Linked DNA regions of Homo sapiens. The protein of the gene in region 1 interacts with the protein of each later gene in a biochemical or structural test. Each region holds a gene or a part of one and is shown on either strand. Other genes may lie near its edges. The genes, in order: SRPK2, NCL and MARCHF10.

Evidence for each region.
Region 2: of the proteins of SRPK2 (region 1) and NCL, one has a biochemical effect on the other in vitro, tested with the Homo sapiens proteins (one large-scale study listed by BioGRID).
Region 3: of the proteins of SRPK2 (region 1) and MARCHF10, one has a biochemical effect on the other in vitro, tested with the Homo sapiens proteins (one large-scale study listed by BioGRID and IntAct).

What each region holds. Positions count from the first base shown.
Region 1 is NC_000007.14:105,130,277-105,133,925, forward strand, and holds part of SRPK2 (SRSF protein kinase 2), read right to left. Parts: exon of another isoform or gene 2,829-3,649; coding exon 2,728-2,828; exon of another isoform or gene 2,623-2,727; coding exon 2,515-2,622; exon of another isoform or gene 1,491-2,514; intron 1-1,490. UniProt on the Homo sapiens protein: Serine/arginine-rich protein-specific kinase which specifically phosphorylates its substrates at serine residues located in regions rich in arginine/serine dipeptides, known as RS domains and is involved in the phosphorylation of SR splicing factors and the regulation of splicing.
Region 2 is NC_000002.12:231,457,842-231,461,490, forward strand, and holds part of NCL (nucleolin), read right to left. Parts: intron 3,026-3,649; coding exon 2,828-3,025; intron 2,724-2,827; coding exon 2,637-2,723; intron 2,602-2,636; exon of another isoform or gene 2,527-2,601; intron 2,453-2,526; coding exon 2,311-2,452; intron 1,285-2,310; coding exon 1,160-1,284; intron 549-1,159; coding exon 425-548; intron 1-424. UniProt on the Homo sapiens protein: Nucleolin is the major nucleolar protein of growing eukaryotic cells. It is found associated with intranucleolar chromatin and pre-ribosomal particles. It induces chromatin decondensation by binding to histone H1.
Region 3 is NC_000017.11:62,806,066-62,809,814, forward strand, and holds the start of MARCHF10 (probable E3 ubiquitin-protein ligase MARCHF10), read right to left. Parts: upstream 2,250-3,749; 5' UTR 2,012-2,249; intron 576-2,011; exon of another isoform or gene 365-575; intron 1-364. UniProt on the Homo sapiens protein: E3 ubiquitin-protein ligase. E3 ubiquitin ligases accept ubiquitin from an E2 ubiquitin-conjugating enzyme in the form of a thioester and then directly transfer the ubiquitin to targeted substrates.

The DNA.
Region 1 (3,649 bases):
ACAGTGTCACATCCCTGTAATCCCAGCACTATGGGAGACCAGGGCGGGTGGATCACTTGAGCTCAGGAGATCAAGACCAGCCTAGACAACGTGACAAACTCCATCTCTACAAAAAATACAAAAATTAGCCAGGCGTGGTGGCATGTGCCTGTAGTCCCAGCTACACCAGAGGCTGAGGTGGGAGGATCACTTGAGCTTGGGAAGTGGAGTCTGCAGTGAACTATAGTCCTGCCACTGCACTTCAGCTTGGGGAACAGAGCAAGACCTTGTCTCCAAACAAACAAACAAAACCCTCAAAGACTATATATAGGCTTTACCACCAAGAACCATCTGTGGCCTTATGACAGCTTGGTATTATGAGGTCAAATTTAATATATTAAATGTCCTATTTTTACACTACAACAGAACGATGAGGTAAGAAAAACTGCCTCATTGCTCCTAGGTTCTCTAGGAGGAACAAAAGAAACCTCTAAAGCCATGACTTTTGGGGGGTGGGGCAAGCAGTGAATGAGGGCCTGCCCCTTTCCAAAAAAAAAAAAACCTCCCTTATGACAACCAACTGAAAAAGCAAACCTCATAAGCCGTCCTGACAGCACTGAGGGAGCTTATGCTTAATTCTTGGGAAGGGGGCAGGTGAGAAGACAGAAAGGCTTTTCCTTGGGAATCTGTTATTGATATTTATGCCACTGTTCACAGCAATAGCATTTCAAGAAGTAAGCAGGACAGGGAAATTGTATGGAGGGACAAACGTTCATCTAATGGAAGGCAGGTCAGATAACCTGGTATAAAATTGTGCTGAAAGCTCCATTAACCCACTACATCCGTGACTGCGTCCTATTTTTCTGGTTATATCACCAAACTTAATACCCCAAATTAGAAGCACAGCATTTCAGAGTTCAAAGAGTACTTAGCGCCTAATTCGGGGCAGCCCTGCTGCTAGTGGCCATTGTGGTCTAACCTCCCCACATCCTGAAATGGCCCCTGCTCCCCGACTCCCACTCAGTGTCTCCGCAGCTCCCGTTACACTAACTCCCACGTCTCAGTCTGCCTGCTGGGGTCACACAGAGAGGGTCAAATGCCTCTCCACACAGCACTCTCTAAATTCAAAGTGACCATCATTGGCCACCGGTTCTTTTAACCGTTCTTTTCTATACCTAGCTAAGGCAGGGACTTGGTTTTTGATATGGAAGAACTTTAATACCTTTAATAATTTAAACGTTATTGTCTGGTATTATCCTTAAGAGCAACGAGGGAATAGAAAGGCCTGGTGTTTCAGGACCTATCTGGCCATGTGCTGACTCAGATCATGCTGAGTCAAAGCTGAAAGACAGAAAGCACCCTCTTTTTCTCCTATCAGCTGGCACTATCTGCTCAACAATGCTTTTACTTGAGCATTAGAGGAGGTAAAACACAGTAAATTCAAGAAAATTGTTAAATTAACCTCTGAATAACAGAAAATTAATATATTTATTCTGCATTCCTTTTTTCAGTGAGAAGAAAAATGCTAAGCCTTGCACACAATCTTTTCTTTTAAATATTGGAAGAATATGGATAAAAAGCAGTATGGAATAGGAAAAGCATGAAACCCAACAGCAAGCAACCCACCTTTCCCAACACGGAACGCCTAAGTAAATACCACTGAGAAAAAGCTGCTGAATGGGCCAGGAAACAGGGCAGAGGAAGAGAACCAGGAACTGGCTCGCAAATGCAGGGCCCTTTGTGTTCACCAACTCACAGGTTCAGGGTCAATGACCAAACGATGCCAGGCAGGGCCAGGGGAGTTTACAGACAATGCAACTGTGCAGCACAAAACCAGCAGCAAAACAGGCCTGACAGATAGAAGAAGAGGCTTCTGCCGCCCTGTGGAAGCCGTCATCTCAACCACTCTGGGAACAGACTCTGTCAGAGGGAGTGGGCGTTGCTGCCACTGTTTCAGAAGAGGCTAGACATCCTAGAATAAGCCAGAATATCTGCTAGCTCTTGCTTTATAAGGGAAGAGAGATTATGCATTGGCATCTGGGGAAATCCCTTCCAGTCTGGAAAGGTGAGGAACCCTGCATGTCTGGTTGACCAGGCAGAGGCTTACCTGGAGGGGCTCCCACCTGCCCGCCTTAGGCAGTCTTCCCCTGGAGATGCTACCTCATCTTCCTCCACAGTGTGAGTGAAGGGAAAAGCTCCCTATACCCTGCACATTTTCAGGGACCACAAGTGAAGTCACTGTGTCACAACAACTGAGTCTGATTCATGGGGCTGTGGGCTGTGCAGGGCCTTAAGAAGAGACCATGTCTCTCTCACAAGCCCACAACCACACCAAACACCCAGGGCCCGCCTGAGGAGGATCCTTCCACTTCTTAAGATGCCTGCGGCAGCAACCTTCCCCTCACCCAGCCCACGGTGGATGACCCTTACAGTCAGAAAAACTGAGGTCGCATGCCTCAGAGAGACTCAGCCCCATCCAGAGTGTGAAAGGAACGAGCCAATTCCCATGGCAGCAAAGGGCACAGCCGTCCTTACCATACACGCCGTGCTCCAGATGTCCGCAGGGGTGCTGTACCCCGCTCCTATTAAAACCTCTATGGAGCGGTACTGACGCGTCTGGATGTCTTCCGTGAAGTGTTTATGCTGGAAGGGAACAGGCTGCATTACCACGGAGCAACACAGACATTCAAAAAGTGTCTTCGCACACAGAATCAAGACCAAAGGTTTTAGAAAGAAAACTCTACTTACCACCCAACAAGCATTTCCCAGGTCAGCAATTTTTACTCTAATTTTATCTGCATTCCGCGGATCCAGGGGATTCACCAACAAGTCAGCTGCCCGGGTTTTTGCTGGCATGAGCAAACAGCAGGACAGTTAGTGATCGGGATAGGTGGTTTGCATGTGTGAGCACAGTGTTTGCCAGGGTCAGTCTCCTTTCCTCAAGAGTAGTGGAATGATCACTTAGGCCTGGAATACTGTAAATTAAACTTGACAGAACTAAAATTGCTTGTTCTCCACCTCTGGAAAATACTCCAGAAAAGAGCAAACTGGGCTGCCCACAGGACGCCAAGGGCACTGCCTTGACCTTTCTCTTTTTATCCCCAGTTTCTTCGGGTCCAGGTCAGCCCTAGAACAAGCCAGCCTTGCTGTCCCCCTGTCTGCAGCTTTGTGGCGGCTCTTCATGGTGTCAATCCATCCCTTCACGGCCCAGATCGAGCTTGCTGATGCATTATTACAAGGAACATGAAGGTAGAAAGAACACTGCTGTGGGGGCCGATCACTCTCAGTGACACACAGTTCCTTGGACGCCACAAGACATCAGGGTCCCTGGCACCGACACCTCACACCCACATCATCCCCTACAGTTCCCACTGCTTGGGCTGAGCACACACAGATCTCAAGGGGTAGATGACTGTTGATTAACAAACACAGATTAAAGGCAGGGACTAAACTATTCTGGTTTTGTTTTAGACAAGGAAGGTCCCAGACAGAGGTCTCCTGAGATGGCCTGGGCCATAAAGGCAACCTCTGAGGTCAGTCATGAACTTGTCATGTACATGAGCAGTCATTCTAAATTCCAGGATGACTCCAGGGAATCTCAAAGGCAGGTATAGGGCCAGCTTCCCAGAGATTCTGGGGCCAGATCTTCTCAAACAAGTTCAGATCATGC
Region 2 (3,649 bases), on another chromosome or scaffold:
TTAACACAAATGCTTTTACCTCAGCAACACAGAACTTGCTTCAGATCTGAGTACAATAAATGCCCTTAGTTTTATGCCACTTTTCAATCAAAACTCGAGCTTCCCTCTTACTTCCCACTAGTTTTACAAATACTTGGAATTTTTTCATAGTAACCTCACCTCACTGAAAGAACTGCTACTACTTACAAAGTATTTATTGTAAGATAGGCACATTTCTTGCTTCTTTGTAAGTATTAGCTTGTCTTTTAAAATCACCCTATGAGTACATTATCCCCATGGTACAGATGGGTTACTGAGGCACAAACTTACAGGTTAAACTGTCCAAGATTACACGCCTAAGGAAATCAAACCAATATTTCTTTTATAAAGCAGGAAAGTGCATTAATGTTAATAAAACCCTTACATTTCAATAGACAGAACATACCCTTTACTTTTCCCATCCTTGCTGACTAATCTGATCTCCGCAGCATCTTCAAACACTTCTTTCAATTCATCCTGAGTGACTTTGTAAGGGAGATTTTTAGCCAAAAGTGTTCTCGCATCTCGCTCTAGATTAAAAAAACAAAAATGAGCTCTGTGGCCTGAAAAACCAAAGGTGGGGGGCAACAACAAAAAGAGGGGAAAAACACACATAGCTCTATTCAACAAATAATTTGAGATCCTATAATGTACAAGGCTCGGTGCTAAATATGGAGATATAGCAGTGTCAACACACAAGTGGTCCCTCCATGTTGTCACAGCTGATGTCAAACTCTCTGTTAGGTACACTGGAGTTCAACCTAGAGTAGACGCGCATAACAAAAAAAGTGAATGTACCAATTCAAAACATTACAACTGTATATAGGGAGTAATTAGGGACCTAATCTAGTTTCAGTGAAGAAAGATCCCTTTACGTTAATTTAGGTGCATCTAATAATTCTTGTTCTGTATAAAAGTGCTCTTGCTTGCCTAACTCAGGAATTTACACTATAACACTGACAAGCAGTGCCAAGTACTCTTGTAAACACTGTAGCTCATTTAATTCCCACATTAAGAGGAAACCAAAGGAAAAAAATGATTTAAAAAAATAAGAGGAAACCAAGGGAAATGGGTTACAAAGCATTTTCCCTAGCAGTCTAGCTCCTGAGTTCATTGCATAATCTCATAAAGCCTTACATACCTTTCTTACTGTCTTTTCCTTTTGGTTTCTCTAGTTTAATTTCATTGCCAAAGACTTTCAAACCAGTGAGTTCCAACGCTTTCTCCAGGTCTTCAGCAGATTCAAAATCCACATAACCAAATTTCCTTCAAGGTGGAGAGGAGGGCAAAATTACAACAGGTGAAAACACAAATCAAAATCCACAATATGTATTCTAGACAAATGTGATGGTGCAAACAAAGATCACATTTTAAAAAGCACCCCTAGTATTAGCAAAACAAAGTCAAGGCTCTGCAAACTGCAGCTACAGAACAAGGTCTCAGCATGAAGATATGACATGCACATTCACGTTTGAGGTCTTCATCATGGAGCTAAATTGCTTATAAGAATTCACAGTAGCAGCTGACAAAAGAACACCTATAAGCACTAATACAGGAGAATCCTGTCTGGATAAAAGTATTCACTATGATGACTAGACAGGTCTAATAGTTTCAGGTACTTCCAAGAAAATAAACATTATTTTAAATTGAGACGGTGTCTCAATCTGTTGCCCAGGCTGGAGTACAGTGGCGCGAACTTGGCTCACTGCAACCTCTGCCTCCCAGGTTCAAGCGATTCTCCCACCTAACACCAAATTATTAAAACTTACTGGCAGGGTGGCTCACGCCTGTAATCCCAGCACTTCGAGAGGCCGAGGTGGGTGGATCACTTGAGGTCAGGAGTTCAAAACCAGCCTGACCAACATGGTGAAATGCCATCTCAACTAAAAATACAAAAATTAGCCAGGCATGGTGAAGTGCACCCGTAATCCCAGCTACTTGGGAGGCTTAGGCAGGAGAATCGCTTGAACCCGGGAGGCAGAGGTTGCAGTGAGCCAAGATTGCGCCACTGTACTCCAGCCTGAGCAAAAGCCAGCGTCCGTCTCAATACATAACAAAAACAACAAAAAAACTTACTAAAAATTATTCTGTGCTATACCAAGTTACGACTGATTATGGAAATTGCAACTTAGGGGATCTACAGTTTAATTCTAACTTAGTTCACTAATGCTAATCCTTGAAGATGTTTACAGTATTCATGTTTAACAGTAGCAGGCTAAAGTAACTGTGCTAACAGGGGAAGGAAAAGCATTAACAGACCCACGTGTATGTAACGTGCAGTGAAGCACTTACCTAGTCATACCAATTCTGACATCCACAACAGCAAGATCATTTTTAGCAAAAACATCGCTGATACCAGTTTTTAATTCAGGAGCAGATTTGTTAAAGTTTAGGTTTCCAACAAAGAGATTGAAAGCCGTAGTCGGTTCTGTGCCTGCACAAAAAAAGCTCAACTCAGTCTACTTGTAGTGTGGTAAAAAGTTAGTTTCCAAAGCAAAATTTCTATACACAGCACATCAGCACACTACAATGTAACATCAGGTTTCAGTATTAAGTCCCTTTGTTATTCATCATTTGTGCTGTTTATCTCCCCCATATCCCCTAATTCTGCAAGTTACCTTCCACTTTCTGTTTCTTGGCTTCAGGAGCTGCTTTCTGTTTGGCCATTTCCTTCTTTCGTTTTCCAGGTGCTTCTTTGACAGGCTCTGGACAAGATGTCAAACAATGTATCACACATCAGTAGCCACAAACACTTAAGTGCCTCCTTTAAACATAACTCATGTCGTATGTCAGAATCTAATTTAAGTACCTTCCTCCTCCTCTTCTTCCTCCTCCTCATCATCTTCATCATCATCATCTTCATCATCTTCGTCGTCGTCGTCATCCTCGTCCTCATCATCCTCTTCTTCATCTTCATCCTCAGCCACGTTCTTGGCTTTCACAGGAACAACTTTTGCAGCTTTCTTTCCTTTGGCTGGTGTAGTCTCCATAGCTTCTTCTTCAGAGTCTGAAAGAGAAGTCACCTAAAAATTGCAGCAATCTCCCAAAACCAACATCGGTTTTCAAATCTAATGTAAAGAAAATGCAATCCTGTCACCATGTTTAGTTAACAGTCATGGCAAGAATAGATCACTTGGGGCCGGGCGCAGTGGCTCACGCCTGTAATCCTAGCACTTTGGGAGACCAAGGTGGGTGGATCACCTGAGGTCAAAAGTTCGAGACCAGCCTGGCCAACATGGTGAAATGTCGTCTCTACTAAAAATACAAAAATTAGTAGGGTGTGGTGGTGGGCACCTGTAATCCCAGCTACTCGGGAGGCTGAGGCAGAACTGCTTGAACCCAGGAGATGGAGGCTGCAGTGAGCCGAGATAGCGCGCCATTGCACTCCAGCCTGGGAAACAGCAAAAGCTCCATCTCAAAAAAATTTAAAAAAAAAAAAAATCACTTAGAAACAAAATCCTACATTATAAAAAACACTAATAGAATGTGCTATTGAAATTTTCTCAAGAGGCACAAAAATCATTCATGGGTAATTAAGTCTAGCACACCACAACAACCCAGAGAATTCCCACAAGGATTCTAATCTCATCTCCAGGTTGTCGTGGAAGGAATATGTTGATCCCAGAATCTC
Region 3 (3,749 bases), on another chromosome or scaffold:
CATGAGATTAAACAAATATTACGGGAACCAAGAAAACGGTATTAGTGTCAGACCAAGAAGATGGTGGGTTACCTCAGTATAAGCAAACATTCTCTGTGTTTGCTTGAAGTTCATACTGCACTCAGTCAGTTTGAAAAACTGACCAGGATGAACAAGAAACAGAAATAACAGTATGGAAATAAAACTACATGAGATAATGCTTAATTCATGGATCTCAGCTTTGTGGGCCTACTCAACCAGATGGCCACTTGAAGCCAAGAATTTTTCCCCAGCAAACACAGAGGGTTGGGGTGGGGGTGATAATAAAATGTGAGCAAGGCGCATGTTTCTAAAATAGCACTCTGTATTCTCTTCTATCGCTCACCTTTGAACTGCTTCTTAATTTAAAACCCACTCATGGTTATGCACACTTCTGTTTTAAGTCTTTCTGGTGATAATGTCTTGTGCCAAATCTGTGCTTTAGAAATCAACATAAGAAGCCATATTAAGTAGGGAGAGAGAAAGGAGGAGGGAGTTGGAGGCAGGTGGAGAAGGAAGGAGGGGGTCCTGCCTTGCTGAAAGCAAGAGCGAGTAATTCTTCTTGGCCTCAAAATTCTACATATCTGTGAAATTTTAATGGGGGAATATTCTAAGAACTTTGTGACATACACGTTCTTCTCTAGTGTAATTTTCCAGTGAATTCCAACCAAGTTTTCCTGACTGAGGGGAACAGAATCTGATTGCAGAATGTTTTTCAGTGCTCTAAAAGTCATGCATACGTACCATCCCTCTGTTTTATGACCACATTTGTCAAAAGAACTGATTTGAAGGAGCCTGTTCTTAATAACAATCAAAGTCTTATTGGTTTCTTACTATGTTCTCATAAGAGAAAGACATCACTAAAGTTAATATGCTGTTAAGCAATAAAGGAAATGTAAACAATCTAACCTCCTCCTTAGACGGAAGGTTGCTTTGAAATAAAATCTAAATGGCTATTGTTAATACCGGACAATCAGGCTCGAAAATTACTCCCTTTCCACAATTAGGTGATTGGAGAAGGATTTCAGGAGACCTTATTCAACCTTTTCCCCAATTGATTAATTTGTAATGTCAGACATTATAGGATTTGTTTAAATCTTAGCTCTAAAAAAAACTTTGCATTTTAAAGTCTTAGCTTATAAACATGTCTTGAGTATAAGCAACAAAGTTTACGATTTGGGCCCAATTTAAGAATACTGTGACTGCAGAGAAAAAGGGGGAATTGGTTGGGAAAGGTAAGGAGATCTTTCAACTCTTCCAGCCAATTTGGCTTAAGAGTTGGGGGCGGGGTGGAGGGTGGGGAACAGACTTGTGTTTGGCGGTGACTCTTCATTTTACTGTGAAACTAGGAGAGATAGGTGGTCACATTTCGACCATCAAGCCCAGAAGAGAGGAGAAACTCAACGTGTAATTGGGAAACTCTGGGGGAGGAAACGTCACAGGTTTGACAAGCAATTCAGTGCCATCATTAATAACAATATCCAGCCAGAGAAACATAACGAGACCCCTTCTTTACAAATAATTTAAAACATTAGCCAGACATGGTGTTGGCCTGTGGTCCCAGCTACCACCGGGAGGCTGAGGCGGGAGGATCGCTTGAGCCTGGGAGGTCGAGGCTGCAGTGAGCCCTGACTGCACCGCTGCACTCCAACCTGGGAGACAGAGCGAGACTCCTTCTCAAAAATAAACAAAATCAATATCGACCATTTCGCATTCAGAAGCCCAGTGGGCCATGGTCTGTGTATACCTTTTCTGACCAGTGGCGTCTGCAGGAAAGAATGTGGGTGCCAGTGAGCAAAGGTTCACGGTCTCCCCCAAACCTGTCCCTCTGAGACAGAAAAATGCTGGGGCTGGGGTCAGCCGAGGGGAGGGGACGGCCAGGCCACCGGATGTCAGGCCCGGTTTCCCTCCAGAATCTTGTAAGTCGAAAGGGAAGGTTGTCCCCCATCCTGGGAGAACTGGAGCGGAGCGGCGGGGGCGAGGGGGCCGTTACCTGTGGGTCTGCCCTTCCTCCCCTGCCGGGGCTACAGGGGTCGAGGGGCTGGGCGGGCGGGCCGGTCCAGGGCGCAGGAGCCGCCCATTAATTGCGCGGGGACGGCCCTGAGCTCCTCTTCCTCCTCCTCTTTTTGCTTCTTCACTCCCTACACCTGCCCCTCTTCCTCCTCCTTCCCCGAGGCTGCTTTCCGCGGCGCCGGCCGGCCTTGCCTGGGGCGGAGGCGGTGGGGGCGGCTACCGGGCGTCCTCCGGTTTCCCTAGCAACCGCGCCTCCCCGCCCCCGCGCGACCAGGTGCAGCCGCCGAGAGCACGGGGCGGGGCGGGGCGGGGCTGTGGCCCCGGGGTCCCAAGCCAGTCGTGGGCGCCCGCCGGTTGCCGTGGGAACGAGGCGGGCTGCAGTCGGGGAGTCAGAGCCACGCTGGTGGGCAGAGAAGAGATGCCCAAGGAGGAGGCGGTTGGCTTTGTCTGGGTGCCCAAGCCCAGACCCAGATATCCAGGCCTCTGCTCCCTTCCCTGAAAGGGTGCTGTGCTTCATAAAAAATGAGATTAGAAAACGAGAGAGGAAAATATTTTTAATGGAATCAGGGAATGTGAAAAGCGGTACATGCGAAGAGGAAAAGATACTGCAGTCCTGGAGTTCGACCTCTGCAGAGGACATCTGGAATGCTCTGGTCCAACACGAAAAAGAAGAAATAAGCGATGAAGCCAGGCACCCAGTCAGTGGCAGAACCGACATTAGAGCCCAGGCCTCTTCGTAATCAGTCGTCTTCACCCCCTTTCCAAGGAGAGAGGTGCTTAGAGGCCTAGACCAGGCCCTACAGCTTTGGAGCCAGGGCACCAGAACCGCTACTACCCTCACCTTCTCTGTGCCAGGTTGATTTCTTTCTTTTTCTTTTCTTTTCTTTTCTTTTTTTTCTTTCTTTCTTTTTTTTTTTTTTAGACAGAGTCTTGCTCTGTAGCTCAGGCTGGACAGTGCAGTGGCACGATCTTGGCTCACTGCAACCTCTGCCTCCGGGGCTCAAGCGATTTTCATGCTTCAGCCGTCCGAGTAGCTGGGATTACAGGCATGCGCCACCACACCCGGCTAGTTTTTGTATTTTTTTTTTTTTTTTAAGTAGAGACGGGGTTTCTCCATGTTGGCCAGGCTGGTCTCGAACTCCTGACCTCAAGTGATCCGCCCGCCTGGGCCTCCGAAAGTGCTGGGATTACAGGCATGAGCCACCTTGCCCGGCTTTGCCGGGTTGATGTCTGTCTGTGGTTCTCATGGGCAAAGATGACTCCCCTATTTACTTTGCATATTTAGGCTCTCAACTTGTCAACTGATGTCAAGTTAGGGTATTTTTGATTGAGTGGAGAGTAAGGTAAAGGAAGAATAGAAATTCTTGGAACTTTCATCAGTGCCCGGAATCCCTAGGTGTCTGTGGTTTGACCGTCTTCTCAACACCTCCCCTTCCCCCCATTCAGTTGGTGCCAAGTCCTTGGCAGCGTCACATTCTTCTTTCTATTCTTATCACTCTAGTTTTGGGCTCCATGACCTAGTTTTGGGCTCCATGGATTATTCTGAGGGCCTCCTGGTCACACCCTGGGCGCCTGTCCTCCACACCCTATCTTCACCATTTCCCCCATCCTATAAGCAGCCTACATCTAATGTTGCTGGCCCCCTGCTTAAAAAGCCCTGAAAGGTTCCTCACCGCCTGTGGAATGAAGTCCAAACTCGTCACTATGACTTTCCCTGT